2 separate regions of the Homo sapiens genome follow, and region 2 is linked to region 1. Evidence: fine-mapped expression QTL. A gene starts in region 1. The other region holds a variant in brackets. All regions are shown on one strand. Distances are from middle to middle.

Region 1 (15,095 bases):
GAAAGTTTGTCTCCACTGAACTAGATGAGGCCAAGGGATTTTAAACTTTCAACTGTTTTGTCTAACCTTACTTGGTTTTATGTTATTTTTTATTTTTTTAAGGAACACAGACATTGTCACAATTCAACCACAGAGAAGACTTGTCCAGCTGAGGCTTTCAAATTCAATAATTATTTGGAGATATGCTACTAGAAACTTTCAGAGAGGACAAAGAAAAGGTATCATTACAGTGTAAGAAGGCTGGAGTGGATTAGCATTGCTCACAGTTGTAGAGAGAAATACTTGGCTGATATCAAAATACATCGTTGGATGGTAAAGTAGACTATGTTGTTGATATGAATGTGTCAACCTTCACTTCTCCCCCTAAACCCACACACTGAAGGGGTGAGTTTAAGTCTGGGCACAGGATGTCAAAAGTTCTCAGGCATGGAACAAGCCACAGAATGGATTAAAAAATACCCCAAGCGGAAGAAAGCCATACACTATTAGACATTCCATTTTTTTTTTTTTTTTTTTGACACAGAGTCTTGCTCTGTCACCCAGGCTGGAGTGCAGTGGCACAATCTCAGCTCACTGCAACCTCCACCTCCTGGGTTCAAGCGATTCTCCTGCCGCAGCCTCCTGAGTAGCTGGGATTACAGGTGCCTGCCACCACACCTGGCTATTTTTTTTTTTTTTTTTTTTAATGAGACTGAGTTTCACTCTTGTTGCCCAGGCTGGAATGCAATGACGTGATCTTGGCTCACTGCAACCTCTGCCTCCCGGGTTCAAGCAATTCTCCTGCCTCAGTCTCCTGAGTAGCTGATATTACAGGCATGTGCCACCATGCCCAGCTAACTTTTTTGTATTTTTAGTAGAAACGGGGTTTCTCCATGTTGGTCAGGCTGGTCTCAAACTCCTGACCTCAGGTGATCCACCCACCTCAGCCTCCCAAAGTGCTGGGATTACAGACGTGAGCCACTGCGCCTGGCCCTAATTTTTGTATTTTTAGTAGAGACAGGGTTTCACTATGTTGTCCAGGCTGGTCTCGAACTCCTGACCTCAGGTGATCTGCTCACCTCTGCCTCCCAAAGTGCTGGGATTACAGGCATGAGTCACCACACCCAAAGATCTGAGCTAATAATGCATCCGGTTCCCCATATCAAAGGTGCTGGCAACACTCTAGCCTTTAATTAATTACCCTAAACCTAAGTGGGATAGTTATTTGGCAATACATCCATTTTTTTGCCAACTGAAGCAGTCCAGAGCTGTGATGATACCCCACAAAATACTAGGTTTGTAGGTTTCCCCCACCCTCCCATCTTCCTACCCTACATGCCCTACAAAATTCCTGCCAATGAATTTCATAGTGAGTATGTATGTTGTCATTTTGGGATGGTCCCATAAGAGGCCCATCTGGTGAACTCATCCAACCAGACGGTTTTGTTACTGGTGTCAACCTTGAGTTATGATTCAGAATCTTGAGTATACACTCAGATTCGAAATCCCTACGTAGTAAGGTGTAGGACAAAACATCTGTGCCTTTGAGATGCAGGTGCTTGGACTGGTCCTCTTACTAGCTGTGTGATTTGACAAGTCACTTCACATTTAACCACTCTGTAGGCATGAGTTTCCTCATCTGAAAAAAAAAAAAGGCAAACTAGTAAAAGCTGACCCCTGCAAAGTAACTGGCAGATAGAGGGCATCCAATAACATTCCAGATAGCCTCCCTTCTTTTCATAGAATGCTAGAAGCTACAGGTCCTTAGAAGTCAAGCAGATTCATCTCTCATTTGTATAGATGAGGAAATCAAGGCCCTGGGAGGTGGTCTTTCAGGCAAACAGTGGCAGCTCTTGAGATGTGGGCTCTGGTACTTTATTCAACGTTGGTTTTTTTCACATGAGCCAGCCCATGAGAGATTCTGAGAGCAGGTGGGGACAGTAAAAAGGCAGTCCCATAATTTCTAGGAGCCTCAAACTGTAGGCCAAAGGGCTAGGTAAACAGATCTGCCTTGTTTTAAGTTTGATACAGGCCTTACGGCTCTCTGTTGTTTCTCATCCTCTACAACTAACACATCTTGGTTGGTCGCTGGGCCTATGTATACATTCAAGTTTGGTTTATCCAGACTAACTGGCTGAGCTGCCCTGCCAATAGTTTGGATTATTGATCAACCAAAGGTGAGGGACACACACCCCAGCTTTATACAACTCACACACATGCACACACAAAAGCATCCCCAAGATCACATCCTAAGCTTGGTTCTTGGTCTGCAGGGGAATAATTGGCCCTTTTAAATTTCAGCTTGCAAAGTAATAGCTTTACCCCACTGCATTCTTATAGAATAGAGACTCAGAAAACCACTGACATGTACAGAAAGGCTGAGAACCCCTGATTCCCAGAACTACTCTTCAAGGTTGATTTCAGTAGCCTGTTTCACGTTAGGAAAGAACGTATGCTTTCATAGGAACCAGAGTTCTAGATCCTGAAAGTGAAACTTCATGCTCCATATAGCATAACTGTTTCCTTCCCTTTCTCTTGGGAACAACACAATTCTATTATGGTTACATTTTAAAAACAAATTATGGATTACTGACTAATATCAAATGCTCATTTGTGAACTAAAACTCACCTAAAAGCCATTTCTTTTGTTAGCCGCTGCGCGTTTAAGGGAAAGTAAAGGGGTGAGAAAATGGCTCCCCAGAAATCCTATGGGGCATCCCCCACCCCTGCAATATATCTCAAGCATCAAATAGCCACTCTATGTTAACTACCACCAAACCTTTTCCAACCACTAGGTTGTCACCTTTTTCACAACCCTAAGACAACTATGCAAATACTTTATCTAAATTTTGAGAAACTGGGCTGAGTGAATTAGTAAGCACTATATGAGGAGGGGTTAACAGCAATTTATTAAGGTTGCCTGAAACACCCTAGTCCAAACACCGATTCAAACTCTTATTTAAATATGCTATTTTAAACCTGATTTGCAGCAGGGCAGCAGACCAAATTAAAGCACTCATTTTACTGACCTGAGTCCCAAGCCTGAATTCTCTGGTGGATTATTTTTAATTTAAAAATGAGCTCTTGTCCTATAAAATAAGCAGCACCAAGGAGAAATGCAAGACAGCTTAAATGGCCCAAGAGGCAGCGCAAGTTACTTTTACAAAAAAACTGGAAAGTATTAGTGACATTATCTCCACTTCTAATTTCAGAAAATGACTTTACAGTATACTTCTAGGTTATAACGTAGACAAGTATGTCTGTGAAACTGCTCCTGAAGGTTTCCACGTAATAGCTGCAGGTAAACAAATGTTATAATATGACCACACAATGCAATACTATGCAGCCATTTAAAATACAATGAAGTCGACTAGGTTTCAGGCATAGAGAAATATGTGTGATAATATGAATTTAAGAACAGCAAGTTGCAGATGCCATTTTTGGAGAAAAACTTACATCTATGTGTGGGTATTAAAAAACCTCCCTGACATACACTGACATCTATGATTCTATATTTAGCTGCGAGGGTGTATGTATATATAGTTTAAAAAGATACACACTAAACCTAACAATGGTGGGAAAGGAGGGGAGAGATCTTGGTCTTTCATTTTACTTCTTGTCTTGGTGGCTTGCATTTTTCGCAAGGGCATTGAAAACTTTTTACATTAAATAAAAAATGAAGTGATGAGCTTTAAACAACTGTAACAACAGCTCTTGAGTGCCCTTGTTAATTTCTTGATTGACTGTTTTCACCCCACTTAGTACAACAACGCAGCCACAACTCCTCAGTCCTTCCCAGTCTTTGGAAGGCTAGGAGAGAAAAAGGCGTGGCTTGCAGGGTTTTCTTCTAGCTAGAGGAAAACAGGCTGTAGGCGCCCTTTTTTTAGCTACAATCCCGAGAGCTCCCACGTGTCAGGGGTGCGCAGACGGTAGGCGCGGGGTGCAGGACTCCAATTATCAATTCAGCCGAGCCCAGCGCTGGTAAAGGGGGCGTTTAGCTCGCCCGTTTCCTCCCTCCTCAATCCCCACACAGTCAGTTTCTCGGTCCAAGTTTTACTGGTGCGGCCCAGCCCTACCGAGAGTACCCGAATACACGTCTGCAGAGGACGCGGGCATTGGGCCGGGTGAGCTACGATGTTCTAACGATCAGCAAATGCCAATTAATCTGTTAATTGTCTATTAACAATTATTACTCGGTAAATGTCAACCCAGACCTACACCCAAAGTGGGCTTGAGGGAGGGTGGACGAAGTGTAAACATTTTTTCTTTTTTTTTTTTAAATGAGAGATGCCGCCCGCCTCTCCGGGCCTGCGAGTGGGCTGGCGGATACCGGAGTCCCTGAGGTCACCGGCGGAGGTACGTGGGCTGTCCCTGGGCTTACCTTACAGGGAAACAGGACTGCCGAGGCCACCTTCTCCATAGCCAGGTTCCTGATGCTGGGCGTCAGGGCGCCCCTGCACGTCGGGCAGCAGCTCAACTTCTGGCGGCATTGGTTACACACCAGGTGCCCGGCCTGGCACTGCAGAATAGGAGGCAGGACATAGTCAAAGCAGACCGGACACTCGAAGAGCGAGGTCAGCTCGTGGTGCTGCGGGGACACCGGGCCGGCCCCGCCGCCGCCGCCGGGGCCCGAGATCACCGCCGCCGCGGCGGGCACCGCGGACGAGCCGGGGCCCGCAGCCGAGATGGTGGCGGCGGCCGGGGGCGCAGCCGGGGACGGAGTGTGCTGGGGCTGCGGCGGCGGCTGCTTGCTGCAGGGTTTATTAGCGCTGGGGCCGGTGGAGGACGGGCGGCTCATCGCGCTCCGAACCAACCATGGAACTGCGGGCGCCTGCCTGCCGCGGGGCCGCCCGGGTCAAGGCGGTGCGCGCCCCGCGGGCAGCGAGCTCCGAGGCAACGCCACGGCGCCCAGCCCAGGTCCGGGCGGCGGAGACGCTCGGCGCCCGGCAGGCGGAGGGCTGGACCGCGCTGATGCACTCCGCAGCCCCCGGCGTTCCGAGCACGCCTCCGCGTCGGACCCCGCGCGGTGCCCTCCTCCCGGCGGCGTCCCGGGCCCCGAACCCCAGCGGTGCGCAGAGCCCTGGCCCACCCGCTTCTGGAACAGCCGCTGACGCAAGCCCCGGGGGCGCGCGCGGACGTGACGCCTGGACACGTGTGCGGCCGCCCAGGCGCGCGGGGACTGGCAGAGCCACCCTGCGCCGGGGCGCTGGCTCCGCCCGGCTCCAGCTGGCAGCGCAGGGGGCCGCCTAGCGCCGGCGCTTCCTGCTCGGGCTGCGGGCCGGGCCTGCGCCAGTGAGCATGCCTGGCTCGCTGCAGCCCCGCGGGGTTGTCTTTTCTGGGTTGAGGAGGGGGGCTACTCTCGGGGAAGCGTCGCCGAAGTCCTCTGGCCACACCCCGGGGTGCCTGGCTGACGCGTCCCTCAGCTCAAACGAGAAAGGCAACTTCAGGCGGGGCGGGAGCGTGGACGGTGGGTGGGACCGGACGCGGGCGGGCAGGGGCGGGGCGCGGGCGCCCCTGCACTAGTCGGAAAAAACCGAGAGGTTTCTCTTCTCAGGGCTGAGTCACCAGCACGCAGGAGAAGAGGGCGAAGCGGCCACCCGCGTTCTGTGTTCGGAGTCAGGACGAGAAGCATTGGGTGGGAGCAGGGCGAGGGGCTCGAGTTGGGTCTGCAGCGGGCACAGGACCTAGTTTTGTACAGTTAACGGTGGGGTTGAGTAAAGAGGGGGGCGGTGGGGAGGATGTAAGCTCCCTTTATTCCTTTCCCAGCGGACCAGGAGGAAGCTTCGTTGAATTGAGCGCCCCTGGCTCGTATAGCAGGCCGAGGAGGGAGCTCATGGGCAGCGTTGGCTAAGAGTTCGAGATCATCTAGAAATGTCAGAAACGTAGGTTGGGTCGTGAGGTCTCTGAAGACAGTGGGTGAAACTCCAGTGTAAGGCGCTGCGTCCGCTTGGTAGAGAGCCGGCCGAAGTCCGAGTCTTTGTTGCGAGGCGTAGGGCCACCCTGCGCGCCCAGCAGAAGCGCTAGAGGGCACGGTTGCCCGGGGTGAACCGCATGTCCAAATGTAACTGTGTGCTCCGAGTTAAAATTGTTTTTCTGCAGACTTTGCTTGAGCCAACGATTCCGGAATTGGGGAAAGGGTTACCTTAGGTAGAAATCGGAAATTTATAGGAGACACAGAGGTAAGGACCAACTGTTAGGACTGAGTGAAAAATGGTTCCCTCCAACTGTAAAAGTGGAAAAAAAAATACCTATCTTATAGGTGGGGCAGTGAGGAGTAAATGAGTTTAATATATTTCAAGCTTTTAAAACAACCTCGCCCATCATAAGCACTGTTTAAACATTAGCTCTTATCTTTTAAAAATATTAGTGGATGTTTAAAATGAATGAATACAATTTGTCCAAGAAATATGGCGTAAGAGCCCAGAAGAAATAAAGTTTAATCTTACAAAGGGCTTCTGTAGAAAGAATACATGCATGGAATTGATGGAATTTGGTATAAATCTTGAAAAAACTTAATAGGTGTATTCAATCGTTCAGTAAATGTTTCCTGAGCATTTATCATGTGTCAGCTACTGTTGGAGCTCTGAGAATGGTTCTCATGCAGTTTACATTCTAGTAAGAGAGCAAGGCCCAATAACCAAGCACTCGTGGGAGAAGAAGGATTTCAGATACCACGGGGTGGGCAGGCATTATAGCAGGAGCTAAAAAGCACAGAGTGAAAGCATGTATTCTGGGATTGCATTGGGACTTGGAGGGGATATAACGGGAGTGTAGGGGTGTGGCGTTAGCACAAGGGGAGCCTCAACTGGCTTAATAAGACATTTACCTCAATGATAGGGGTAAACCACTGTAGGGTTTTGTTTGTTTTTTTAAGAACACACAACAACACTAGGTTTTGTAGGTTTTTGGAAGCTCTTTAGTAACATGGCTGAACCTGAGTTTTTGGATAGGTAGGGAGCATAAAATAATAACTAATGTTAATTGAGTGCCCACTGTATGTTGGGCATGGATAGTTTTAAGTATTTATCATAACTCTCTGTGATGAATACTACTGTTATCTCCATTTTACAGTTGAGGAAACCGAGACATAGGTTACTTTGCTCAAGATCACACAGCTGAGAATGTGGGAACACGCTAGGAGCCCTTCTTAACTACTAGTCTGTATGCCTCTAAATTATGCCTGATTCCTACTTACAGTCTTGTTAAACAGTTAAGATTAGCACACTCAACAGAGTCAGAAAACAGTTGTTCAGCCTATAATAAAGCACTAAATTTTGTGGGCAAACTTTACATAAACTCTTTCCTTAGCTGGTCTAGAGAGAAAAATTAAATCATGTTCTATTTATTTCATTTTCACCTTTTTATGACACAAAATATAAGTGATAACACAAAAATCACCTACTGTTTTACTGTTATTGGAGGAAATGTAATATTTTTCATTCTTAATTTAAAATCAAAGCATTTGGAATTTATTAATGGAACACATTTTCTTTCCTTCCACTTCTAGCCTCTCTGTGTGATGACCTCCATCCCCACGGCTTCTTACTAGCTCTCATTAGGAGACTGGAGTCCTCACCCTTGCCCCATTGACACGAGCTTTAAGTGTTCCAGCTAGATAGGCCCTGGTCATTCAGAAAACAATTTGGTTTGGGAGGTGTTGAAAGAAATAACAGGAAAAGCAATTCTCTGCAGAGAGAATTTGGTTTATTTTTCTAAAAATACAGCGAACCCATCCACTCTTACCCTGGCAGATGCCTCCCCTGGTATAGAGAAATTTCTTCTTTCTTCCTCCTTCACATCATTGCACACCTGATTAAGTCAACCAGGGTAATTAAAATACAAAAGCAAAACAAAAAAACTCTGGGCAGTTGCTGAAGGTAGGCAGGGGGAGAGTGGATAGGTCTGCTATGTGAGCCACATCAATGACCAGGCTGGTCTTCCCAGTCGCCTTTCTTCTTCCTCCTTCCTTGGTGACTTTTGAAACAAAGAAAGGTGACCTTTGCATACCGGGCACTATGAGCTAGAGCCTCCTCTTCCAGCGGGCAGTCCGCTCAGAGGTCGAATTTAGCGTGTACTCAAAATGTGTGCTGAGTTGAGTTGTTGGGAGGTTTATTTACCCTTTGGAGTGTCGCTGCTGCTTCTTGGCCTGTTTAGTGAGTGACTTTGTGGTCTGGGGGAGCAGGGTCCAGCCTTTTGTTATCTCCTGATTCATGACTCATTTACCACATCTACTGTATGAGAGGTTGGTCTCATTCGCCCACCTACTGAGTCCCAGATTGCATATGTCAAGCAGGACACCTCTCCTTAACCCATCTGCTCTATGCTAAGCTTGAAAGACTAGGGGTGTACTGAGTAGCCTTTTCTTTCCTTAAAATAGCAGGGTGAGTCTTAAAAAAAACACCTCACAGGTGAGTTCCTAATTTCACTAAACTGCTGAGCACAGTGAGAAATGCTCCAGCTAGGCAGACAAGCTCTTGCCCTTTTTTCTGTAACTTACAAATTGTGTGGTTTTGCAAATCAGGCAACTTCTGCCATCAGGCAAATGTGCATTTGCAGAGCAAATTGTGGTTGGCTTTTTAGAGATGACTCAGGTATGCATTGGAGCTTGCTGCATGGAAATTCCTCATCAGGGGAAGCTTGTGGGAAATCTGGAGGTGATGTAAGGCCCCCTGGTAATTATAGTAGGAACTTTTAACTTCATCTGTTTCTGGGGTAATTTCCAAATGCTCAAACTTCTTTTGAATAATTGTAGGTCTCTTAATTCAAATCTTTTTTTTTTTTTTTGAGACAGGGTCTCACTCTGTCACCTAGGCTTAATGCAGTGGCTGGATCATGGCTGACTGCAGCCTCAACCTCCCAGGCTCAAAGGATCCTCCTGAGTAGCTGGGACTACAGGCACGTGCCATCACGCCCTGCTAGTTTTTTAGTTTTTGTAGAGAAGAGGTCTCACTGTGTTGCCGAGGCTGGCCTCAAACTCCTATACTCAAGTACTCCTAATTCAAGCATTTTTTTGAACAACCATCATGGACTTAGCACTGTGTACTAAGAGCAGTTCTATGTATTTGCATTATTTTTGTATCCACACTTAGCTAATTAGTGCTCACCCTGTACCAGGGAGTGTTCCAAGTACTTTACATATTTTAATTCTCTTAATTCTCACAATGTCTTTTATAGGGTAGATCTTTATAGATGACAAAACAGGTACAGAGAGGCCAAGAGAGTTGTAGGAAGTCATCATTAAGAAGGCTCCCAGGGATCCCTCCTCCTGGTGTCGCCCAATATGTAACACCTTTCCTGTGAATGAGGGCTGATCCTGCTTTAAGTGAACAGAATATGGTCAAAGTGATAGAATGTCACTTCTGAGATTAGGTTAAAAAAGACTATGAATTCTGTCTTACTGTCCCTCCGTTCCTCTCGCTTGCTGTCTTAGCTCGAGCTGCTATAATAAAATATCATAAACTGGGTGGTTTAAATAACAAACATTTATTTCTCACAGTTGTGGAGGACGGGGAGACCAAGGTCAAGGTGCCACAGGTGTCTAGCGATGGCTTGCTTCCTGGTTTGTAGATGGCAGCCTTCTCACTGTGTCCTTACGTAGCAGAGATAGGAAGGAAGCTCCCTCAGGACTCTTCTAAGGATACCAACCCTCTCCATGAGGGCTACACCCTTAGCACCTCCTGTAATCCTGATTACCTCCCAAAGACCCTGCCTGCTAATATCATCACATTAGGGAGTACAGTTTCAATATGTGAATTTTGAGGGGACACAAGTATTCAGTCTGTAACACTCTCTGAGCCCTCTCTGTGGATGAAGCCAGCTACCATGTTGGGAGTAGCTCTGCTAAACGGTCCACGTGGCAAGGAACTGATGTCTCTGGCCAACAGCTAGTGAGAACCCTGGGCTTGCCAACAGTGAGTGAGTTTGGAAGTGGATTCTCTCAGCCGAGCCTTGTGATGATTGCAACCCTGGCTCACAAGTGATTGTGCCTGTGACACCTTGAACTAGAGGACTCAGCTGAGTTGAACACAGAAACTGTGAGATAATGAATATGTGCTGTTTTTATTTTTATCTTTATTTTTAGAGATAGGGTCTTACTATGTTGCCCAGGCTGGAGTGCGGTGGCCATTCTCAGACACAATCATAGTGCATTACAGCCTGGAACTCCCAGGCTGAAGCAATCCTCCTGCCTCCGCCTCCCAAGTTGCTGGGACTACAGGTGTGTGCCACTGCACCTGGCTTCAGTGTTTGTTGTTTTAAGCCATGAAGTTTTGGGATCATTTGTTACTCAGCAATATATAACTAATACACCTGTCCCAGGTCACAAGGCTTATATGTAAAATGATTTTTTATTATAATGCTATTTAAATATAAGGAAACAAATATAGGAATATTATTTTTGTTATTTACAGCTATAGAAACAAAAAAATTGAACACCAACAAAACCAGAATTAATGTTCTTATTTCTTATTTTTATGTAAATCCATATTTTTCAGATGATAATTTGATGTGATAGAAGATGTGCGAAAATGAAATCATCATTTAGTTTGGAAACAACCTCAGTGTCCATCAATAAGAAAAAGAACTATGGAAAGCCATCCTATAAAACCCTCTGCAATTTAGAAAAGTTCTCCAAGACAATTTGTTACATGAAAAAAGCACACTGTGGCTGGGCACAGTGGCTCACGCCTGAAATCCCAGCACTTAGCGAGGCTGAAGCGGGCAGATCGCTTGAGGTCAGGAGTTTGAGACCAACCTGGCCAACATGGTGAAACCCTGTCTCTACTAAAATTACAAAAATCAGCTGGGCCTAGTGGTGGGCACTTGTAGTCCCAGCTACTTGGGAGGCTGAGGCAAGGAGAATCACTTGAAGCCAGGAGGCAGAAGTTGCAGTGAGCCTAGATTGTGCCACAGCACTCCAGCCTGGGCGACAGAGCGAGAGTCCGTCTCAAAAAACAAACAAACAAACAAAAAACACTGAAGCCAAAAAACCCAAAATGATTCCATTTCTGTAGAAAATACCGTGCAAGGCAAAATGACTATATGTTTACAAGGGCATAGAAAGGTCTGGAAGAAGACAGTGAACTGACGGCAGCAGCTGCCTCCAGGGAGGGGGAATGTGAATGGATATGCAGTATGGAAAACATACATACTTCCTATATTTCTGGAGTTTATTTCTTTTTTCTTCTCTTGTTCTTTTTTGTTTGTACAATGAGAATTTATTCATGTGTTTCGTGTGTTATTTTTTAAAAAGTGTGTTGTCCTTGCCTTTCTGGGGGTTATTTTAGTGAAGGATTTATTTAGCTGCAGGGTTGGTGCCAAAATGGGTGATAAAGACTAGCCAGCCAGAAAAGGTGGGCATTATACTGCTGAGAAAGGAACTAGGAGCTTCAGTCAGGTCTTTGGGTCTGAGAGGTGACTTGCTGAAATTAATATTAAATTTAAATTAATATTAAATATTAAATTTAAGAAGAGTAACCCAAAGGCAGTATGTGAGTATAACTTGGAGATCCCAGAAAGAAGGAAATAGGTTGGAGGATCTAGTGCTCCAAGAGGGGCTTCCTGGGTCGAGTAGAGATGAAGGTTATGAGCCAGGTTGTGGCCACTGGTCAGCTGGCTAAGTGCAAAGATTTATTCAGTCAATAGTGTCATATTTGGAGGCCATGGATAATATCAAGCCCAGGCTTGATTTTTGGAGAGATAGTAGCCTGGTAGGGGAATAACATTAATTATAAAACCCTTACACAATGCTCACTGGATATCAGACACTCTTTTTTTTTTCTTTTCTTTTTTTTTTTTTTTTTGAGATGGAGTTTCACTCTTGTTGCCCAGGCTGGAGTGCAATGGTGTGATCTAGGCTCACCACAACCTCCACCTCTCGAGTTCAAGCGATTCTCCTGCCTCAGCCTCCTGAGTAGCTGGGATTACAGGCATGAGCCACCATGCGCTGCTAATTTTTTATCTTTAGTAGAGACAGGGTTTCTCCATGTTGATCAGGCTGGTCTCAAACTCCTAACATCAGGTGATCCACCCACCTCGGCCTCCCAAAGTGCTGGGATTACAGGCGTGAGCCACTGTGCCCGGCCCCCAGACACTCTTTTAAGCACATGGCATTTAATCCTTATTAGAACGCTCTAAGGCATGTAGTCTATTAATCCCCTTTAAGCGATGAACAAACCTCCAAGAGGAGGTTTAATCCCTTGTCCTAGGTCACATGCTGATAAGTGACAGAAACATGATTTGGATCCAGGCTGTTTTAACTCCAGTGACTGTGCTCTTAACCATTTGGCTGTCCTGCCAGACATCATATGGAAAATCTAATACAGTGTGATACGTGTATTATGGAGATGGGAAAGGAGAGGAGGGTGAAGTTCAGCACTTCCTGGGCAAGTGTGAGGAAGACATCAAGAAAAAGCAAGAGTAGGAATGTGACAACCAAAGAAGAGGGTAAAGACTGCAGTCCAGAGAGAGGGCAGCGTATACCCGAAGGTACAGAGCTCCTGAAACTTTCCTACCTTGGGGAGTCTTCTGTCCTCTCTCCTCTAGGAACCATCCTTGGATCCCTGCTGGCCTCCTTTCTGAACCCGCTGTTGAGGCAGAGTTGCATATACAGCATTTCTCCTAGGACTGTTTGTTCTTAGATCTCTATCCCTTAGTGAGAAGTGAAGAAAGGCAGAGGGGAGAGAGTCCGGAATAATCTCCTTATTCTCCATCCCCACATCCCTAAGTCTGATCTGAGATTCCCCCAAAGAGCCTCGTCCACGCCAGCCTAACCCAACAGACAGTGTGGATCACTGAGAACCAGCAAAATTGACATAACCTTGAGGCCTCAAATAATACATTCCTTTCCTTTGACATCAGTTTTGTCAGATTAAAAATCCAATAACAGACTGTCATTGAGTCCAAGAAAAGAGATGGTAATAAAAGGGAGAATCTGACTCCATAATGGAAAGCAGGTGATTTTTAAAATTGGTTCCTCCAGCTGTCTATGCTACAGAAATTCCAAGAAAAAGTAGAAAAGCTGCTCCTTCCCCTTCTGTCTTCTCCGACTTGGTTGTGGCCCCGTTACTGCCCTGTTTGTCTTGCTTCGACTCCAGGAGGTGTCCTTATGTCTCCCTCCCTCCAGCTTAGCCAAATTCTGTGCGTCCTGCACACCTAGCTCACCACGCCATCCCTGCTGCCCCTGCCTTCACCAAGGGCCTACACAAGTCACCTAGGGACTCTGCCTTCCACCACCTCACCAGCCTCTCCCTCCTCCAGCCCCTGTTTCACTGTCTCCACAGCATAAACATAAATAATTCTGGCAAATGAATAGCTGATCTACCGTGTAATGAGTGCTATAGCATTGAGTAATAAGATGCAAACCATTTACCTTATTGGTGCATTCATCAAGTGTGAAAATATTTACTGTATGCCCAGCCTTGGGCTAGGTCCATTGTAAATTCCTTCGAATAAGATGAAACTTATTTCAGACTACTTCAGGGGGTCTCATGGAAAACAGGGGTGGGCAGTGTCCACAGGCCTGAGACCCCTAGAATCAGGAGCTGCAAACCTCCAGTAAACAGGCAACTTGTGCTCTCCAATTATTTGTCATAGAGTTTATTTAACCCTTCCCCTTTCTGCAAACTGGCTCTTACTGCTTTCCAGAGCCCAAGGTCAAAGGTAGCCAGCCTGCAGATTTTGAGTTTATCATCCTGTGTTCCAGCTGCCTCTCCTGAGGGATGAGGCACTGCCAGATCTCAGATTTAAGCCAAATCTCAGAAGAGAGAATCTGACTGGACAGCTTAGGTCACGTGACCATTCCCAGTCCATTAAGCTAAGGCCACACAGACAGGCTCACTGGGTGGAAACATGGCTGCCACTCGTCTGCCCTTGTGGGTGGGTGGGAGGAATTCTGACAAGAGCAGTTTGGGGCTGGCCAGATACTCCAAAAGTTGTCTGTTATGTGTGGTTGGTTGGTTGGTTTTTTAAGACTGGGTTTCACTCAGTTGCCCAGTCTGGAGTGCAGTGGCATGATATGTAGCTTACTGTAACTCGAACTCCTGGACTTAAGTGATTCTCCGGCCTCTGTCTCTTGAGTAGCTGGTACCATGGGCACCCGCCACCACACTAGGCTGATTTTTTATTTTTTGTAGAGACAAGGTCTGGCTATGTTGCCCACATTAGTGTCGAACTCCTGGGCTCAAGTGATCCTCCTGCTTCAGCCTCCCAAAATGCTGGGATTACAGGCATAAGCCATGGCACCCAGCCTATTATGTGTTTTAAGGAAAGACATGACCTCTGGCTTCTCAGCACTTAAGCCCCGTTGGGGAAATTAAATGGTAAGTTGAGGTTATTTCAAATGAATGCAAAATCTTTGATTTTGTGGGAAGAATTTAGAGTTTATGATGGACGTATTGATCTTGACTTTAAGGGATCATACGCCTTTGAGTTTTAGAGAGAATGCTTATTTCAAATAAGAATAGAAGGATCATAGGTTCCTAAAAGGAATGCATGAGGGCAGGAGACGGTCTTCAAAGTGGATTCCATTTTGAGTGCTGAGAGGTGAGATTAGGTGGAAAAGTGGGAACATTCATCAAAAGGATTTGAACAACAAAGACCTAAGTTTAGACTTGGCCTTAACAACAGGGAATTCGGATGGCTAAAATGGAAAATGGGTGTGTTCAGGAGTCACCCAGACTTGGTGATTGTTATTTTTGAGACAGGATCTTGTTGTGTTTTTCAGGCTGGAGTGCAGTGGCCCAATCAGGGCTCACTGTTGGCTTGATATACTGAGCTCAAGCGATCCTCCTGCTTCAGCCTCCCAAGTAGCTCGGACTATAGCCATGCACCACCCCACCTGGCTAATTTACAGACTTGGGTTTGAGTCTGTCCCTTTCTGTAGTTTATGGGAGTGGGCAATTTTCTTAACTGCAGAATCTCAGTATCTTCATCTGGAAAATGGCAATAATCATACTGGTGGGTAATGGGCATCTGTGGTTTTGTCTTTCCAGCATCCATATCCATTCCGACTCTTTAAAAAAAAAAAAAACAGAAAAACAGAGTCTTGCTCTTTTGCCTAAGCTGGAGTACCGTGGCATGATCTTGGCTCACCATAACCACTGCCTTCCAGGTTCAAG
Region 2 (15,095 bases), 35 kb before region 1:
TTAAAACTAATCCCTTTCTTTTGGGAATTTAAGCTGTTTCTCAATTTTTGCTTTTTTTAAAGAGCAGTCTGGTGAATATTCGTGTAGCTAAGTGTAAGCCCACATTCTTTATTAGTGTCTTAGGATAAATTCCCAGAGGCAGAATTTCTGGGTGATGGGTAATTTACATTGTCACCAACAGTGACAGTGCCCTTGATCAGATGAAGAGTTTTAATTAAACGTCACACCAGAACTCCATAATCTTGTCTCAGTCATGTCATCGCTGCTCAAAACATTTGGTGAACTCTGTTTGGTGATCCAGGCTATGACTCATATAAGAAAATAAATCTTAATCTCTCATCTTGCCTTTGATCTTTGACTGTTCAAGAAAATCTAATTTACCACAAAAGGACAAAGACAGCAACCATGGCAGATTTTCATATAGGTGTGCCACCAGAGTCAGGAGGAGATAGGGAAATGCTTCCCAGACTGTTCTGAATAGTGGCAAATCAGAGAATAATTCCTCTAAGTCTTTTTGGAAATTAGAATGGAACTTCCCTATCATCTGAAGACTCCTTATGGATTGAACAAGGAGGGCCCTCTTGACTGGTTTGTCTTTCTTTCTTTTTCTTTCTTTCTCTTTCTTTCTTTCTTTCTTTCTTTCTTTCTTTCTTTCTTTCTTTCTTTCTTTCTTTCTTTCTTTCTTTCCTTCTCTCCTTCCTTCTTTCCTTCCTTCCTTTCTTCCTTCCTTCCTTCCTATCTTCTTTCTCTTTCTCTCTCTCTCTCCCCCTGCTTCCTTTTCTTTTCTTTTCTCTTCTCTTTTTTCTTTCTCTTTTCTTTTCTTTCCAGGGTCTATGCTATGCTGCCTAGGCTGGTCTCAAATTTCTGGACTCAAGCAATCCTCCTGCCTTGGTTTCCCAAAGTGCTAGGATTACAGGCATGAGCCACCTTGACTGGTTTCTTCCTTAAAGGTTCCTAAGCTTCGCCTTTTTTTTTTTTATCTTAAAGATGGACACAGAGATCTAAACATTAAAACAATTTATTTATTGGAGTTTCCTCATAGAAGGGTAAGAGAGACAGTTGCACCTGACTGGGTGCTTAGTATTTCTATAGAGTGGCTTAAGCATGGCAACTGATTAATGAGAGGAGCAGGAGGTGACTTGCATTGTTTTTACTAAGATAATATTTTGTTTTGTTTTGTTTTGTTTTTTTTGGAGAATGGCAGATTGGGTTTATTGAGGGAGGCGACTGAAAGGAACTCAAATCACCCCCTTGGTACTGCTATTTATATTACTGCATTGTGTGGAAATCCTTAGTGGCAAATAAAGCTTTGGGCTGATGTTTAAGGCCCTCTACAATATAATCTTAACGCGACTTTTCTAGCTTTAACTTCGCCTACTCTTACACAGACCTGAATGGATGCTGCACATCCTGTTGGCCCAGCTGCAACTTCAGCCACTGCTGTAGCAACCAGTTTTGTGCAGGTGTGGCTGATGGCTCTGGCTTTGGCTGCCTGACGTTTCCTGGATCCTGCAGCGTGGCACAGGACACATTTGCCTCCTGGTTGCCTTCTGGACTTGCAGGGTACTTACCGTGATAGGGGGTACCCTTTGATGAGCTGGGGATGGGAACTGGAGGGTGAAGACCTCCCTCTTCTCTCTCTCAGTGGACAATTCTGAGGTCCTTCTACACAGTGCCTCAGAAGCCCCTAGCGGGATTGAGCCTCAGTTACCTAAGGCAGTGACCGGCGGATAATGCACCTGTGCTGGCTTTCTTTCCTCCCCTACTCCCCTCTTCAGTCCTTCAGTCTGTTGCCTGGAATCACTTTCCTAAATAAATGTCTTTTTTTTTTTTTTTTTTTTTTTTTTTTAGAGGGAGCCTCGCTCTGTTGCCCAGGCTGGAGTGCAGTGGTGTGATCTCGGCTCCCTGCAACCTCTGCCTCCTGGGTTCAAGCGATTCTCCTGCCTCAGCCTCCTGAGTAGCTGGGATTACAGGCACATGTCACCTCGCCTGGCTAATTTTTGTATTTTTAGTAGAGATGGGGGTTTCACCATGTAGTATACACCATAAGAATGTGTATAACTTTGCCAGGCTGGTCTCGAGCTCCTGACCTCAGGTGATCTGCCCACCTTGGCCTCTGAAAGTGCTGGGATTACAGGTGAGAGCCACCATGCCCAGCATTTCCTAAATAAACTTCATATAAGCTTTGTCTCAGGCTCTGCTTGCTTTGGGGAAACAACAGTCACCACCCTATTTGCTGTTTTTTGATGATGTTCCTTGCTCTTCATCTATTCAGTTCTTTAATACTTGCCTGGGGAACATCTAGTGTGCTCCTGGTCTGGGAAAGGGCCCTAAAATATAAAACGGAATCAGTCACAGGCCTTGCTCTTGAGGAGTTCTTGGTTTAAGAGAGAGAGAGAACAGACAGCTTAAAAAAAAAAAAAGTCAGTGTATCACAAGGTGAATGCTGTTCCAGAGAACCAGGAAGGAAGAACACAGGAGACAGGACAGCTGATCTGGCTTGGGGTATCTGAGGAGGTTTTCTCAGGAGCGTCTTTTAAAGGATGAACAGGAAGTAGTTTACAGGAACAAGGTGGGAAAAGACCTTCTGGGCTGAGAGACTAGTCTGGGCAGAGACACAGAGTCGTGAAAGAACTCGGTATGTTTGTGAACTGTGGGAAGTTCAGGGAGACTGGAGCGGAGGGTGCCTTAGGAATGTGCTATAGAGGAGTCTGTCAAGACCTGGGTGCCTGCTACACTCCGAGAGGTCAGCGAACGGGCCCTCACTGGCTTCTTTTGCGTTGATGGCCTGGTCTGTATTTCTGCACTAGGTGGCCCTCTCATTGTCGCCATGACTGCTGGCCAGTGGACACCTGCAGGAATGGACTTGGGGTAGGCCTGAGGCCCCAGTCTGCTGGGGTGCTCCTGGGAAACTGAGTCTCGCCTCGCCTAGTCTCATGGTAATGTGCAAGGGTTGTTTTGCATCAGCTTCTTGCCACTGGGGCGAGCCAGCAAGCAGCCAGAGCTTCCAGCACAGCCGGAAGGGGCTGGGAGGGTGTATCCACTTCCCCACCCACTAGAAGAATGTGTCTACCTTTGCCTGGGAGCAGGCTGTGCAATCTCCTGCTCGTGTGTGTCTCTGTTTACTTTGCCATGAAACAATCCTGTGTGGGTCTGCTGGTGTCTTCCCTCCCATTGACCCCTATATCTCGTCGGGTAACCATGCATCTCCTGACTCAGGGAAAAGACAGTGACTTTTTAAATATTTATTAATTAATTAATTAATTTTTTTTTTTTTTTAGAGACAGGTTCTTGCTCTGTCACCCAGGCTGGAAGTTCAGTGGCATGATCATAGCTCACCGCAGCCTTGGACTCCTGGACACAGTGATCCTTCCACCTCCTGAGTAGCTGGGACTATAGGCACACACCACTATGCCCAGTTACTTTTGTTTTGTAGAGACAGGGTCTCGCTATATTGCCCAGGCTGGTCTTGAACTCCTGGCCTCAAGTGATCCCTGCCTCAGCCTCCCAAAATGTTGGGATGACAGGTGGGAGCCACTGCACCCTGCTGAGACCAGTGACTTTTAAAGTCGACTAGTGGCTGTCCGAATCAAGTGGTCCCCTCTTTGGCAGTAGTTGGTAAGGAGTAGAAATCAAAGGATACACAGAGAAGATGCTAGGCAGAAGTAGTGAGGATTGGAGGAGAGCAGAGAGAAGCAGGGTGCTGGCAGCAGGAGAAGCAGACTGAATGTGGCTGAGTAACACCGATGTGCCAACACCAGCGGCTAGGAGATAGTGAGGCTTCAGACCCCAGTGGGGCCTGGTGAGATTTCCATTTCTGAACTACACTCCAGAGTGCCAGAAACCTGCTGGTGTGGCTGGTCCTGTGCTCCAGGAAGTGAAAATAGACACGCACTTTCCTATTCCTGTACATATCCTAACACGGAGTAGCGTCAGCAGAGACACTGCCTGGCCATGCTACTTCCCACCATGTAAACTTGAGTAAGTAACTGAGCACTCTTTCTCAGGTTCCTCACTTGTAAACTGGGCTGTTACTGGTGTCTGCTTCATAGGGTTGTTTTGATGCTTGAATGAGTTAATGGGCATAAGATGTGGAGAAGGGCCTGCTGGTGCATATGAAGTACTCAGTAAGCAGGTAGCGGTCTGGGTCTGGGCAGGACACCCAAATTGGGTAACTGAGGAGAGGCTGAGAGACTATTTACAAAAGTATAGGTCAGATGAAGGGACAAAGGATGGTGGAACACCATGGGCTATAACTGGCTGAGAAGTCTTTAGTACTCCTAGGCCTGATGAGGCGAAGGGAGGAAGTAGTTATCAGACACCCAGCAGCCTCAAAACAGGGTGACAGGGCAGGAACTGTGGGGGTCTGGACAAGAGTGCAGCTGGGCCAACCTGGCCCTACAGGGCAGGAGTGGAAAGCATGCATACTCTTAAGACTTCTCCCTAACTCTGATCTCCTGCCCATGATACCCAAAGGCCAATCTGATTGGAGGCCAAAGGATGAGGCTGTTAGGTGGTTACAAAACGCAGTGGTCAGCCTGCCAGGCCCAGAGCAGTTGGTGAGGCATGGAGCAGGGATCTAGGAGCCACTGCAGCCTCTCTAGCACAAATGTCGCCAGTGTTGGCTGCAGTATTGTTATTACAATAGAGGCCTTTCACTTGAGGCCTTGACCGAGTTGCCATTCCTTGCAAACAAAAGAGCCTTACAGAGGCCGGGCACGGTGGCTCATGCCCGAAATCCCAGCTCTTTTGGAGGCCGAGGTGGGTGGATCACATGAGGTCAGGAGTTCGAGACCAGCCTGGCCAACATGGTGAGACCTCGTCTGTACTAAAAATACAAAAATTAGCCAGGCGTTGTCGCAGGCACCTGTAATCCCAGCTACTAGGGAAGCTGAGGCAGGAGAATCACTTGAACCCAGGAGGCGGAGGTTGCAGTGAGCTAATGCCACTGCACTCCAGCGTGGGCGACAAGAGCAAGGCTTCATCACCCCCCCGCCCCGAAAAAAAAAAGACTAACAGAGAAGAGCAACGGGAGCTCTGCAGGGAGACCTAGGGGACCACGCCATTCCCGTGGTCATCATCAGGTACTCTGTTTACCAGCTCTACTCTGTTTACCAGTCTCCCGCACTAGCTGGGAAAAGCTCTCTGGGGCAGGGCAGAAGTCTTTTCCTCTTTATAACCAGAGTGTCCAGCAGAACCAGGGACTTGTCACTGAGGGCTCTGTTGAGGTTTAAGGAACCCCTAAGAACCTGCTGCTCCAGCAGATAGGAGAGGGAAGCACTTAGGGCCTTAGGGGAGAACGCTGAGTCAGGGAACAGTGTGTGCTGCTGTTGCGTGTGTGTGCTTGTGAACATTCACATTTTATACACGTCAGAGAGAAAGTTGAAGGCATTGCCTGTTTTGGGCTGAGGAGGCCAGGCCCCAGATGAGGCTTCTCCCTGGAGCCCCTCTTTTGTCAGCTCCCATTTGTGCCAGGCCCTGGGCTTCCCTGGATCTCACAACTCATTGCAACCCTGTGGAGTTGGCAGCGTGCCTGTTTTATGGACAAGGACGCTGAGGCCAATGAATTCACAAAGGTAGCGGTAATTAGAAGTGTCTGAATTTGAGCCCAGATATGGCTTGAAAGCCTGAGTTCTTTTATTTTTTGAGGGGAAGTCTTGCTCTGTCGCCCAGGCTGGAGTACAGTGGCATGTTCTCGGCTCACTGCAACCTCCGCCTCCTGGGTTCAAGCAATTCTCCTGCCTCAGCGTCCTGGGTAGCTGGGATTACAGGTGCCTGCCACCACGCCCAGCTAATTTTTGTATTTTTAGTAGAGATGGGGTTTTGCCATGTTGGTCAGGCTGGTCTCAAACTCCTGACCTCAAGTGATCTGCCCACCTCTGCCTCCCAAAGTGTTGGGATTACAGGCGTGAGCCACCGTGCCTAGCCAGCCTGAGTTCTTAATCATTGAGCTAGTGTTTCCCAGTGGAGATACTGCAGGTCATCATTTGAATTTTTGTCACTTCTGTGTATTTCCTGTTTATCATTTACTTAACATTTTTCTCGAAATTGTCTTTTTTGGTACTTTAAACAAGTTTACTTGAAAAGGAAACTGTATCACTACCATAAATGGAGAGCTAGAATCACCTACTGTAAATAGAAGGTATCATAAATATAAACACAAAGGAATTCTTGGTCTCCAGCGTGGCCAACTCCAAATTCTAGAGCAGAATGATTTTGAAGTAACTCCATTCCTTTTAATTGCTTCGTTGCCTTGAGAGGCCTCTCTCTCCTCTATCTGTCTGGGCTCTAAGATGTGTAAAATTGGATTTGATCAGATTGTAGCCAGAGGTGTGCTGGTAAATGTTTAACAACTGGTGCTCCAGAAATTAAATTTTTTTTTAACACATGCAAGTGTCAGATAAATCTTACTGATATAAAGGAATTGTAGCACCCAATGTACAAATAATAAGAAATTATACAGTATTCTAAACTGTAAATTCCATATAGCTTATTGATTCCCTCAGAATGTTTTCATTGCTTTTTGCTGAACCGTTGTATCTGAACCTTGTATTTTGCTGAACCCTTGGCATATATTGTATGCCAACCTGTGGTTGATATTGACAAACAAGCAATTATGACATAAATGCTGGTTGGTACCAGTAAGATTAAAATGAAGAAGCCTTAACTTTCAGATGTTTGTCAAAATTTCACTGGTTCATCAGTGTCATCAATGATGTGAGTGACTTCTTTATTGATTTGGGCAGTAGTTTTTGACTGCTAGAAAAATATTTCTTCAACTTTTTTTTCTATTTGCAATGTAATGGTTCCAAGTATGACATAATTCTAAGTTAAAGCTCTATTATTAACATTTTCGTCATCATTTTCTTAAGTCTAGACAACAACTAATAAATCAAGCCCCAATTTGTTGCTTTTGCCACTTTCTAAGTACTAAATACTGCTACTGTTAAATATATACTGTTAAATATAATACTGTTAAATATAACTTATTTAATTATAAATCTAGAATTTAATTTTTAATAATAGCTGTGTTTATCAACTGGCTCTCAAGATTCCTAAACATTTGACTGTTGCAAGTTGGTATGTGCCGGCTCCTGTGTGCCACTGATTATGGCCCTTATCTTGAAACCAG[G/A]CAAGCTGCATATGTTCCCCTTGTGGAGTCACCATCCAGAATAATTTCTACTCTTTTTAGACATGAACACGCCGCTGTGCTCTGCTCCAATAAAATAGCAAAGTTTTTCTCTCCTCGCACTTTCTCACCTCAGCTCCTACTTTCCTTCCCCGGACTCCGCTCCCTGGATATTCCTTGAACACACGAGACATGCACACCTCAGGGCCTTTGGACTTGTTATTTCCCCTGCCTAGAATGTTTTTCCTCCAATTAGCTGCATGTTTCATTCCCTCACCTCCGTCAAGCATTTGCTCAAATATCACTCTGTTTATAACTGCGATCCCTCCTCTCCCCTACTCCCCTACTGACCATCCCTTCTACCTGCTTTATTTTTCTCCATAGCATTGACTATCTTCAATGTATTATACTGTATAAAATCTTTGCATATATTTTGTTTATTGCCTTCTTCTCTCCATGACAATGTAAGCAACACAAAGGCTAGAGGTTTTTTGCTTGTTTGTTTTATTTTGTTTTGAAGACAGGGTCTCACTCTGTCACCCAGGCTGGAGTTGCAGTGGTGAAATCTCAGCTCATTGCAACCTCCACCTCCTGGGTTCAAGCAATTCTTGTGCCTCAGCCTCCTGAGTAGCTGGGACTACAGGCTTGTACCACCACGCTTGGCTAATTTTTTTTTGTAGTTTTAGTTGAGACTGGGTTTCACCATGTTGGCCAGTCTGGTCTCAAACTCCTGGCTTCAAGTGACCTGCCAGCCTTGGCCTGCCAGAATGCTGTGATTACAGGTATGAGCCACCATGCCCAGCCAAGGGCTAGAGTTTTTGTACATTTTGCTGGATCCTTTGTGTATGGAACAGTACCTGGCATAGTGTAGGGAAGCAGTATGTATATATGTGTGTTGGATAAATGAATGAATATATAATATGTAATATATAATAGAAACATTCTTACATTGCCTCTGATGAAATGCTTATGTCTCTTTTAATCTATAGATTCTCCTTCTATCTCTTTTGCTTTCTTGAAATTATTTATTGAAGAACCCAGGTTCCCCATAGCAGAGTTTCCTATAGTCTCATTGCAGCCCAAGAATATAATCTGCTCAGATTCAGATTTGATTTTCCTTTTTACAAGACTGCTTCAAACCAACCAGGGAACTATTGGGGAAAAAACCCTGATGGCTTCATAGTTGATGGTGGTGATGGGTACATCTATAACACAAAGGACAGTGTCTGTCTGTCATGTAAATTTTTATATATATATACACACACACACACATGCATGAGGCAGGGATCCAACTTCATTCTTTTGCATGTGAATATCCAGTTGTCCCATTTGTTGAAACAATTATTCTTTCTCCATTGAATTATCTTGACACTCTTGTCTAAAAAAGGGAAGATTTTAAATTAGATTTGTGTGACCAGATTTGCTTCTTTCATAACTTATTTTGGTGGAAACATTGAGAATTCTAGTCAACATCTATTCAGCTCCAGGGTAGAAAATCCATTCAAACTGGCTCAAGTTTGAATAACGGGGGCTCCTACTGCCTAGACTGTGGTCTTGAATCATTGTTTCACACTAAAGAAATCAAGGTTCCTTGAAGACATCGTTGATTACATGTTGAGTGCAGGAAAAGAACAAGATGAGCCTGGAACATCAGAGGCTATTTGTGATCATGTCAAAAGCACTCAGGAACCAAGCTGAATATGCATTTGTCAGGCCAAGATGGAATGATATGAGTATCAACAAGGATAATAATGGCAATGAATTGAAATACATAAAAAAGTTAAAATCCATGAATTCATAATGATATTCTTTTTTTTAAGAGACATAATGATTTTTAGTTTTTGAGACAGGGTCTTGCTCTGTCATCCAGGCTGGAGTGCAGTGGTGTGATCTCGGCTCACTGCAACCTCTGTCTCCCAGGTTCAAATGATTCTCCTGCCTCAGCCTCCCAAGTAGCTGGGACTACAGGCATGCACCACCACACCTGGCTAACTTTTGTATTTTTAGTGGAGACGAGGTTTCACCATTTTGGCCAGGCTGGTCTCGAACTCCTGACCTCAGATGATCTGCCTGCCTTGGCCTCCCAAAGTGCTGGGATTACAGGCATGAGCCACCATGCCTGGCCTGCCTGATATATTTTTAAAATGTTACTTCATTGGTTTTATTTTTGGAGGATGCTAGAAAACTACCTCATTGTTTTGAAAACTGATAAAGGAAAATAATCAGGCATTTATGTTATCTTTCCCTTGTAAAATGTACCTTACGGTAAACCAATAGTTGAAAAGAGGAAGTTTGTCACTATAGAAGTTTTCCAGTTCATAAAAAAGGAATGATTTGAAAGATCATTCTGTAATGCCTCACAAGTGAATATGAGCCATCAATGGCCGATAATATCACTAAAAGAGACAGACAGAGTTAGAGGAAGAGAGCAACAGCCATTGTCCTTTGTGTTATAGACATACACATCACTACCATCACCTATGAAGCAGTCTTCTTTTTTTTCCTCCCCAACAGTTCCCTGGTTGGTTTGAAGCAGTCTTATAAAAAGAAAAATCAAATCTGAATCTGATAAAATGATATTCTGGGGTTGCAATGAGACTATAGGAAACTCTGCTATAGGAACCCTGGGTTTTTCAATAAATAACTTCAAGAAAGGAGAAGAGATGGAGGGAGAATCTGTAGATTAAAAAAGACATAAGCATTTTATCAGTAGCAATGTAAGGATCTTATATATGTATCCCAGTTCAAACAGACTGTATATCAACCAGAGAAATGTGACCTCTGACTGGATATTTGATTATATTAAAATTTATAATTTTTATAGATATAAAAACAGTATTGTGAGTATGTTTCAAAGTCCTAATCTTTAGATATTCTATACTGAAACATATACAGATGAAATGATATGATGCCTGGGATTTGATTCAAAGAAATCCACACGTGGATGTAGGTGAGGGTATAGATGCAGGACAGCTGGCCAAGAGTTGATAATGGTTGAAGTTGGTGATAACACATCGAATTCGTTATATTATTCTCCTTCCTTTTGAAAATTTACTAATAAAATGTTTTTTTAAAAGTTATACATCTTGGCTGGGTGCAGTGGTTCACGCCTGTAATCTCAGCAGTTTGGGAGGCTGAGGCGGGTGGATTGCTTGAGGTCAGGAGTTCAAGATCACCCTGGCCAACATGGTGAAACCCTGTATTTACTAAAAATACAAAAATTAGCCGGGCATGGTGGCAGGTGCCTGTAATTCCAGCTACTCGGAGGCTGAGGCAGGAGAATCGCTTGAACCCGGGAGGCGGAGGTTGCAGTGAGCTAAGATGGCACCACTGCACCCCAGCCTGGGCAACAGAGAGAGACTCCATCTCAAAAAAAAAAAAAAAGTTATACATCTTGACAGCAATAATCATAAAATTAAGCAAAATTAGAAGGAGGGAGAAACTTTGTGTGTTACTTTCTTCAATTTTGGTGGTGGGAGTGAATAAATATGGTCTAAAATTGAAAAAAAAAGTGATAAGAAGAATTAATTGTGAAGGCACAGCAGGCTGTCTCCAAGATGCCTCAAAGCAGGAAATGGAGTGTTTCTGGGCTCCCTGGGGAGGGATTAGGACCTGGCAGGGTGGGCGGCAGTGGCTGCTCCCTCCACCCCTAGGGGCCTCTTGCTATCAAGGCTTTTCCTTTGCTAGTGTGCTGACTTTCCAGGGCTGTGTGACTCTGGTGCACACCACTGACTGTCTTTGACTCTCTCAAGAGAATCTGACTGGTGGCTGCTCAGCCAATGAACCGCTGGCCTGGGTAAGGTCTTATCAGCTGTGGCCTGCATTACAAGTTTGTGGGTGTGTGAATTAGTGGGGGGTTTGCATGGGGTGTTCCAGGAACTATGGGCAGGGCAAATTCTCTAGAAGAAGTAGTTTTTATTGTGGACAGGGTTCGTCCTGAAATTTAGCTAGTATGAGGATGGGTTAAAGGATAGATTAGAATTAGGGACCAGACAAGACACTGCTGAACTTTGATATTCACTCGGCACGTTCTACGTGTCTGACCTTGTGTGGGTGTCAGGAACGCGGGAACAAAGGAAGTGTGAGAGAAGAATAGCCCTGAGAAGTGGATGGGAGGTGGACAAGGCTGGACTTAGGCATTGAGTGGTTTGGTCTTGATCCAGGAGAGGCTGATCTCTTGGCACATCCTCCTAACTACCTCAGCCTTGCAAAAACCTACCCAACACCCAAGGCCCAATGCACGCGCTGCTTTCTCCCGGAAGCCTTTTCCAATCCTCTTTTGAACTCCATAGCAATTTGTACGTCCTTGTCTTAACTTGCTTTGCAAACATAGTTGATGTAGTTGTGGTTGCATATTTCATGCTACTGTAAGTTGCCTCTTTGTTTGATGCTTTCAGACTTCTGCTAGACTGTAAAGTCCATATCTGAGTCACTTTTGCAGGCAGCAGGGCTGTTGGAAGGGCTACATTCCTGAGTGTAAATCCCATTTTCACTGCTTACAAGCTGTGTGACTTTGGGCAAGTTACTTAGCCTCTCTGAGCCCCCACCTTCTTGTTTGTTAATGGGAGTGATAATACCCACCTCAAGGTGTTTTGTTTTGAAAATTAAACCATATCAAGGATATAAAGTACAGGACCAAGCACAGGGCAGTTGATTGGTGTGTATTGAATTGAGGAGGAATAACTCGGATCTTGAGGGATGAGCAGCATTAGCATAGTGGGCGAGATAAGGGAAAGGGAAGGGCATGCTCCAAGCTGTTCTCTTCAGTCCCTCCAGGGGAGGGGGCAGCGTGCGGGGCCACACTCTGGACAGGGCAGCTACTCCTCACATTGTCAGCAGAAGCCACTGCAGTTCTAGGACTCAGGCAGCCACACTCTTGTCCAGTGTAATGGAAACTGCCTTCTGAGCTGCATGCACCCTTACTTGATATCAATGTACCAGGGACTCGGATCTGTAACTAGAACAGCACTTACAGCTTGTCTCTCAGGGAAATGGTGTTGGATGGTCCTCAGGAATATTTCTTCCAGGTTTTCATGGAACCTAGAAAAACACCACAGCTTGCTAAGGTGTAAACCTCTCAGATGCCTGGGATGTTCTAGACTGAGCTGCAGCCAGTGCCTTTCTCCTGTTCAGGGCTGGATATGCACAGACGCCCTCACCAGGGCCTTCTAAACATAATTTGCTTCAACCCTTGCTTGTTGGCACAATTTTTTTCCCACCTCTCTCTATTTCAATAATGGCTGCTTCCTGACCATCTCTACTGCATAAGTAAGTAATCTGCCCTGGAAACTTGTCTTTCTGATTACTTTGCCCCCGCTGTGATTGCCTCCTTCTCCACATCATCCATTTCGCTCTCTCTTTTGGATCCTTCCCATTGGCACAGTGCCATGCTCTAGTGGCTCCAATTTTTAAAACACAAAAAAATCTTTCATTGATCCCACTATTCTCCTGCAGCAACTGCTTCATTTCTCTACGTCTTCTCTGCGGAACTTCTTAAAAGCCTTGTCTATAGCAACTTGTCTATAGCTCTATAGCTATAGCTCCTGCCTCCTCTCCTCACCCATGCCCTGTTCTCTCCCTCACCTGCTCTCCTCTGGGCTTCTGTCTTCTCCACTCCATGAGACTGCTCTTGACATCTTGCCATGACCTCGATTGTCTTCTCAGTGGCTAACTCCTCTGTTCTACTTGAGCCAGATTTTTTTCCTGGGGTTCTGTGATGCCGTACTGTCTAGGAGTTCCCCTCATCTTGATGGCCACTTCTTCTATCCACCCTCATTTCCAGGCTCTGGCTCCTCATGTGACCTCTAAAAGGTTGGCAGTCCCAGGAGATAGGCCTGAGTCCCACCCTCTTTTCTGCCTGTATGCACCTCCCTCCATTGCCCAAACCCCGGGGTCTTCTCACTTCCACCCCACAGCTTAAACACCATACATATAGTGATGGTGCACACATTTTGGTATTTCCATCCTGGCCTTTCCTCAGAGCTCCAAGCTCATACAAACAACTGTCTGGTTGATGTCTTCAGCCATGTGTCTCTCTAGATTTCTGCCCTATGCTGGCTCCTTCACTAGTCTCTGCCCCAATACATGGAACTTCTTACCCATTTACTCAGGATGAGAGCCTAGGAGTGATCATCCTTGATTCTCTCTTTTCCTTATTCCTATAATCATCACCCCTCTCCCACCCATCCAACTTTTTAGCAACTCCTGTTAACTCTACCTTGAAAACATAGCCCAAATATGCCCATTTCTGTTAATCTCTACCTTTGCTCACTCTGTCCAAGCCATAATTATCTTTCACTGGGTGAAATGCAATAGCTTCCAAAATGCTTCCATTCCTGCCCTTTATAATCATTGTTTTTGTTGTTTTGTTTTGTTTTAATTGAACAGCTACAGCTCTTTTTAAAAACCCGAATCCCATCATCCATGCTCCTTGAAACTTTCCAGTGGCCTCCCATTGTACCTGGAAAGAAAGCCAGACCCCTAGCTGGCCTCACAGGGCAAGGCTCTAGCTCCTTACCTGCCTCACCTCAAAGCATTTTCCCTGCTGGTTCTGCCTCAGGCCTCTGCACTTGCTGTTCCTTTCTTGCTGCAATGCTTCCCTCCAGGTGGTTTTTACATTCACTTGCATTCCTCAGCCTTCCCTGGTTATTCAATCTACAGTATTGGCAGGTGACATCACTTGTCTCAGCGGCTGTATGAGAAATACAAGAGAAAATGAGGCAGTGAGGTTGGACTGGGTCAGAGGTTCTCAACCCTGACTGTGTGCTGGTCCCTTCTGGGAAGCTTTAAAAAGCACACAGAAGCTCAGCCTTACTGCCAAGAATTCTAACTTAGGTCCTGGCATTCTTTAAAGTTCCCCACATGATTCCAAAGGACGTGTGGGGTGATAACCTTTGATCCAACCAGTGCTTCCCAAACTTGAACATGCATCCACATCACCTGCATACTGTGTTAAAATGCGGATTCTGGTCAGGAGGTCTGGGGTGGAGGCTGAGATGCTGCATTTCTGACAAGTTCCCAGGTGATGCTGATGCCGCTGGTGCACGGACCACACTTTAACTAGTGAGGGTCTGAACGATTTCTAGGTCTCCATCCCCTTCTAGCATGCCATGACAGTGGGGAAGGCAGTTCCAAAGCACAGGTGGTATGTTCTGTATTCACCAAGCATCCTGCACCCCTCCATCTTGTTCATCTTTATCTGTTACAAGTAAGCAATATTTCTGCTGATGGTCAAAATATGTGAAAGCCAAATAAGAATAATGATGGATCACGTGATATGGTGAAGGGGCATGGACTCCACGATGGGTTCATATTCCAATTCTGTTTCTTACCAGCTGTGTGAGTGTAGGCAAATTACTTAATCTCTCTGAGCCTTCATTTCCTCGACTCCAAAATGGGGATAATAAACACTGCTTATTTTATTGAGAGGATTAAATGGGTTAATACAGACAAAGCACTTTGCACACGATAGGTACCTAATGGATGGCAACTGCTGTGATCTTGGTGTACTTTGCAAATTGATCTAATCTTGTAATCCAATTGCTGCAGGTCACAGGAACCTTGATCTGTGCTTGCTGCAAGGATCATCAAACATAGAGCGGAGTCGGCCTTTGATCTGAATGTCAGGTGACTCCATGACATAAGAAATTTCAAGGCACAGAAACTTCAAACCAGCCTTAGTGACCTTGCCTGGAGGATGACAGGGGCAGAGAAACCCTTTGTTTCTTCCCTTCTCTGGATTGTTAGATTATCTCCCCATCTCTGTTCCCTGCCTACTTGCGTAATTTCCCCAGGGACTTTTGGTACAAAACCAGAAAACCTTAACTCTTAAAGTGTTGACTTCAATGCTGCTCTCACACTAGCCTGTTAGTAGTTATTTATTCATTCAGATATTAATTGGGTGCCTAGGTGCCAGGGACTTCATTGTCTCTATTACCCTGCAGGTTGTCAAGGGGAGGCAGGCGCT

Evidence for each region. PIP is the estimated chance that this variant, and not a neighbour inherited with it, causes the effect.
Region 2: its variant is fine-mapped to the expression of SIAH2 in whole blood (TOPMed, PIP 0.99).

The regions. Positions count from the first base shown.
Region 1 is chr3:150,758,073-150,773,167 of GRCh38, forward strand. It overlaps SIAH2 (siah E3 ubiquitin protein ligase 2), which reads right to left and starts at 5,097. Exons shown (of 2, transcript NM_005067.7): 1 at 4,361-5,097. The coding sequence starts at 4,777. SIAH2-AS1 (SIAH2 and CLRN1 antisense RNA 1) reads left to right here and starts at 3,865. Exons shown (of 3, transcript NR_187306.1): 1 at 3,865-3,908; 2 at 4,267-4,335; 3 at 10,473-10,603. It overlaps LOC124909447 (a long non-coding RNA gene), which reads right to left and starts at 12,559. Exons shown (of 2, transcript XR_007096132.1): 1 at 12,492-12,559; 2 at 9,444-9,568. RefSeq lists enhancers at 1,358-1,417, 2,652-2,751, 4,568-5,514, 6,033-6,092 and a silencer at 4,623-5,522.
Region 2 is chr3:150,722,696-150,737,790 of GRCh38, forward strand. It overlaps LOC101928105 (a long non-coding RNA gene), which reads right to left. Exons shown (of 3, transcript NR_121657.1): 2 at 13,647-13,820; 3 at 11,776-12,169. Among named protein-coding and RNA genes, the nearest start is that of ERICH6, 26 kb to the left of the region's middle. RefSeq lists enhancers at 2,459-2,960, 2,961-3,460, 4,705-5,204 and cis regulatory regions at 6,970-7,362, 10,611-11,302. The variant G/A (reference allele first, on the strand shown) is at 7,133.